Linked DNA regions of Homo sapiens: region 1 is linked to region 2. Evidence: fine-mapped expression QTL. Tissue or cell type: thyroid. Region 2 holds a variant in brackets; the other region holds the start of a gene. All regions are shown on one strand. Distances are from middle to middle.

Evidence for each region. PIP is the estimated chance that this variant, and not a neighbour inherited with it, causes the effect.
Region 1: it holds the start of ANO3, and the variant in region 2 is fine-mapped to the expression of ANO3 in thyroid (GTEx, PIP above 0.99). The same link has a PIP of 0.9 or more in nasal epithelium.

What each region holds. Positions count from the first base shown.
Region 1 is chr11:26,330,673-26,333,362 of GRCh38, forward strand. It overlaps ANO3 (anoctamin 3), which reads left to right and starts at 1,458. Exons shown (of 27, transcript NM_031418.4): 1 at 1,458-1,649. The coding sequence starts at 1,604. LOC105376598 (a long non-coding RNA gene) reads right to left here and starts at 1,302. Exons shown (of 3, transcript XR_931138.3): 1 at 1,190-1,302; 2 at 848-963.
Region 2 is chr11:26,571,969-26,574,658 of GRCh38, forward strand. All of the region lies in intron 14 of ANO3 (anoctamin 3), which reads left to right. It overlaps MUC15 (mucin 15, cell surface associated), which reads right to left and starts at 295. Exons shown (of 5, transcript NM_001135091.2): 1 at 73-295. The variant A/G (reference allele first, on the strand shown) is at 1,242.

The sequences.
Region 1 (2,690 bases), 240 kb before region 2:
TAATAATAATAAATTTTAGTTTACAGCTTAGTTTCAGGGTAGTTTGTTATGCATCCATAAATAATTGGAGCATCTGTTTGTTCAAAGCTATATTCCCCTCATTCTTTTGTATCATGCACCACAGATGAATCAAACAGCATACAATAATAACTCAATATTTTTGAGGTATCGAAAGTTTGGAAATTTCTGCATATTTTTTATCTGCTTTTATTTGGATTATTCACCTGATTCTGAGTTGATTCCATAAAACTTCAAAACTGAGGAAGCAACGGACTCTCACGATGTGTCTGTTCAATAACATCTTACATCTTCCAGGAAGAACTTAGGGCTTTGAATCAGGGAGCAGAGATAGATGGAGGAAAGGAGATCCTACTGAAAAATGTGTTCAGCTAGCTTCTGGTCCTATTTTGGCCACTGCAGTTTGGTCTTTCAAAAGTTACTTCAAAGTGGGAGCTGAATGATGAGAACACACGGACACAATGGGGGAACAACACACACTGGGGCCTGTTGGAGGGGGAGGGAGAGCATTAGGAACAATAGCTAATGGCTGCTGGGCTCAATACCCGGGTGATGGGGTGATCTGTGCAGCAAACCACCATGGCATACGTTTACCTATGTAACAAACCTGCGCATCCTGCACATGTACCACGAACTTAAAATACATGGTGAAGATATAAATAAATAATAAAATAAAACTTCTCAAACTAAACAAAAAGAGTTACTTCACTTCTTTGGGTATCGGGTGCCTTCTCTTTCAAATAAGGTGTTGATTTATGTGGTCTTGAGAAATCTTTGTTGCTCTGATCTTAAGTTTCTTTTTATAATATTAGAATCATAGTTTACCTACATTACAGGGCTTTTATGAAGATTAAATCGAGCATCGTGGGTAGTGTTTTTTCAGCCCCTGTGACTAAGTAGGTTATAAATGGTCCTCAGTCATCATCATCATAAATGATTCAAGGCCTGAATGGCAGAAGAAGAAGAGGAAAACTCAAGTGAAAAGTGCTAGACATAGAACACAGCTTACCTAATAAAACATGCTACTGGCTAACTAAGCTGGGGTGGCTTTCTGCCCCCTCTACTTAAATTTAAGAAAGAAAAACAGAAACGTCTCTGCATCTGCCACTGCATACCCTCTCAGAGCACAGACCAACTTTGCCCTTCCTTAAAAGTCCCAGGGTTTACCTACCAACTTTTAGGAAATAAATAACCAGCCTCAAAGCTTGGCAAAGAGGGCATCAGTATCAGCTCTAGAGGTTTGCTCCGATTTATATCTCCTCCTCCAGTAAAGTCTTCTGCTCCCACTCCCAGCCAACCCCGCTCAACGCCCACCCCTCACTGTGGCACTGGACGCGCGGGGGATGCGGGGTTGTTCCCAGAGTAGCCGCTAAGGGGAGCCGGACGCTAGACCGCCCTCCCGCGTTCCCATGACAACGACACCGGCGGGCGCGTAGCCTGGAGAGCGAAGTGCCGGCTACAGCAGGTGTCGGATTGCAGTGCGCTCGCTGAGGCTCCGGACCTTGGAGCGTCTAGAGTCTGGCTACTGTTCCTCCGCCTCCCTCTCGGGCAGCTCCCTAAGCCGGCTGGGACGCGCAGAGTGAAAATGGTCCACCATTCAGGCTCCATTCAGTCCTTTAAACAGCAAAAAGGTCAGTTGGAATCTTGCTCCCCTCTCCCTGCGGGCGTCACTTCCCCCCTGCATGCCCTTGCAGTTGTGTAGGAGCATCCTTTGCAGGCTTATGCGACACAGAGGTGGGGAACTCTGTGAAGTTAAAAAAAAAAAAAAAATTAAATTCCTCTTCACTCTGCATCCTAGATGAGTGATTTTCTGAGCCTCCGCACAGTGCCTGGGAGTATCGGAATTCGTCATTTCAGGACTTGACTTAATGTATATCTCTGTGAAGACTGTTTCAATGCACTGCAGTAAACCCGCTTAGTAGGGATTGTCCGAATAGCTCAGTAGAGCTCTGAGGGGTGAGGACAGAAATGTTCAACAATATCTGCCGTCTTCTGTGGTTCAAATGTTGAGTAATCTTCACAAAAGTGTGTCTACTCCTTGAGACGCATTTACACAATCATAAGATAAATGAATTCTTGGGGGAGTTCCAGAGTTGGCCTGTTGCAGTTAAAGGGGCTCTGTCACTTCCTTGGGAAAATTTATTGTTTGCCCATGTCCCATGCTTGATTCTGGGTTTCAAGTTCTTGAGGTTAGGTTTCTCTTCTAGGGGCTTCGTATTATGTCTTTTAGTTTCTCCCTCAAGTTTCTTGCTGGGCATAGTGACAAGAATCTGTATGTTCAAGTTATCCTCACTCTTTGATCTTTGTTTCTTATTTGGTTTAAAAGGCTTTTTACAGAGCATTTTTATTTTGAGGCACATTCACAGTTTTTGGAGTTTTATTATCCAGAAGCATTAATTAACACAATTGCCACTTTGCTGAATTAATAATGGTAATTATGATACAGTTAACCATAGAGTGCCTTAGATGTGTGAATTCTGGAATGCTGAATTTGTTCATTCAAAGTAAATATTTACTTAAATATTCTCATCCCCACCCTCCAGATATTATTTGTATTTCTTTCATCAACAGTTGTTTTTATGTAGCTCTTTGACTTTTTTTTTTTTTTTGAGGTGGAGTCTCGCTCTGTTGCCCAGGCTGGAGTGCAGTGGCGCGATCTCGGCTCACTGCAA
Region 2 (2,690 bases):
AATCAAGGAAGAGAGAGAGTAGAGAGTGAAAGAGAGAAAGCGAGAGACCTAAGTGACCCAACGCACACTTACCTTCAGGCTTAGGAGGTATTTACAATCAGGAACTGAAATATCACAGTTGTCCTGTCTGAAAGGAATCTGTCGTGCATTAGAGAAAACAGATGGGTTAAGTGTGACAATGTCGCACTGAGCAGGAGGGTGCCAGGGAAACAAAATTAGGTGGGGCTGGCTGTATCTTGCTTGTGTAACAGAGCGCCCAGGAACCTGACTGACCTGCTTCTCAGCTGTAAGCATTAAGATATCACCTCATTCAGGCCTTTAACAACAACAACAAAAGCCCAACCCTCCAGTTTTCATAGGTTGATCGTTTTAGCTTTGGGACAAGGTATTACTCTCGTCAGTGGTAGCAAAACACGGGTCATCAATTTTTTTTTTCACCCTAAGTGAAAAAAAGGACAAAGATTTTGGCAAAGTCATCTGGTATAGCAGGAATTTCTGACATGTGCTGGGCCCCCTGCTCCTTGCAGGTGAGGAATCCAAACAAGTCATGCCCTGCACTTGTTGCTCTATGCCAGCCGCACATTCTCTGAAATCATAAACAATTTTTCTGTACTCTAGTAGATTGCCCTATTTGTGTACTTAAAGCCTAAGTAGAGAAAATGTAGTGGGGTCAGTAGTGAGGCGTCTATTCTGAGGTCCACTGAAATTGTTTTTTTAAGAAACTCCTACTTAACACAAAGTGAATTAGTAGCATATATTGGGATCCCTGAGAACGCTGTGAGGTGTTACATGAAAAATAATCATCATGACTGAGATTCGGTTTCTTGCTGACTTTCAGGAGTTTGGAGAGGAACTGGGGCCTGAGAATGGCCATGTGATCCTCACTTATCCTAGGAGCCTTCTCGATTAAGTAGTTTCCACCCTGTGTTCTCTCTGGTTTACTCTCACTTTAGAAGCTGGAGAATTTCAGAAGTGCCCAGGTAATGCTTGATTAAATACTAGAGTTGAATAACAACTTGGCATACTTCCTACACTTCCTTTCAGAGCTTATGAAAGGGAGAAGAGTGAAACTGGGATCTTCCGCACATCAGCGTTTGGGGATGGCGCCAAGGGCCGTTCAGCTCAATATGCCTGAGGTTCATACTTGGTTTCTGCTGCACAAGGAGATAGGTTTTCAACTGCTGAGCGAGAAACGAAACTTTAGCTAAAATGCAGGAGCTAGTAAGCTTCAAATGGAATGC[A/G]AAGAATCTGCCCAGTTAATTGGCCCGAGGAAAGAACAAGGTAATTCTATAGTTTTAAATTTTCTGAAGCCCAAAGGCCCCTTCAGAGTTTGATTAGAAATTAAACCAACCCCGAAAAAATATTGTCTCAAAAGATATTTAAGCTGTCTCTACTGTGGTACGAAGAAAAGCAGGTTAAATTTAATCAAACAGTTAGTTACTGAACAGTGGCTTAATAGAATTCAATGGCTTATTTTCAGATTAGCCACTTTTTAGGTAAAAATCCAACTAAATATATTTTCTGTTTGTAGTTAGAGAACTGAACATGATTGGGCAGGACTGGGTGCACCTTTTCCCTAGGCCTTTTCTGCAATATGTGTGGGAATATCATTATCCCCTTCTGCCTTAACCATAGTAATTATGGCTTATACCAGGCATAAACATTGCAATGCACTTTTGCTATAGCTCTCCGTTTTCACTGCCATAAAAGTCCCGCTAATTTCTCATGTTGCTTTTTCCTGAAGACCCTTTCTGTGGGCCCAGAATCCTATTCATCATTGCCCTCCTTACAATCATAATCAATTGATTAGACCTCACCCTAGAGATAAACCTTACCTACCCTCACTGTCTTGAGCACATCTGGAAATAAACTTATAAAATGTAAACTGTACGTAAATTTAATGCCTCAGTTGTTACTTAGCTCACTTAGTTGTTATCAGAAACCTTTGTTTACTCATGGAGTTGGAGTTAAAAAGTAATTTCTAGCCAAACAAACAAGTTTCACTGAGATACAGTCCTAGGTTCTAGGTAAGACCAATCCCACTTTAGACCTCCTTTCTCCAGAGGAACTCCACAATGAGAGATAATTACCTGCAATTTCATCAGCAAACCCAGCTGAGATGACACACTGTGCAGTGCTTGTATAATTTTTTTTGGTACTTACCCACTATGGTGCCTTTCATCTGGCACTCACCAATTGCTTTACACTCATTAATTACGTTTCACAATACATACTGGGAGGAAGAAAAACCTCTTCCTAGTCTGCAATGATAGAACCACTCACAAGTGGAGTTTCCAGAACACGAAGACACATGAATATCACTAATGGATCTGAATACAGAAGCAGACATAGCTTGGGACCACACTTCAAACTAATTGAAAACATTGTTTTGAATCCAAAAGAGTATCTTTTTGTACAAATCCTATAGCATCAAATCTTGATGCTGATGTCACATGTAGGGAATTTGCATTGATCAGATTCACTGATAGCATATTTAGTCTGATACAGGCTACAAGTGGAATTCATGTTTGTTTCCCCATAGGGACATAGGTACTTTAAGCAAATAAGAAATATTTGAATAATAGTAAAATAAATTACATTATGAATCTATTATTTGAGAGTATTTTAATGATATTCTTTATAAATAAAATAGAATTTAACGGCTGGGAAATGTATTTGGGGATAACATT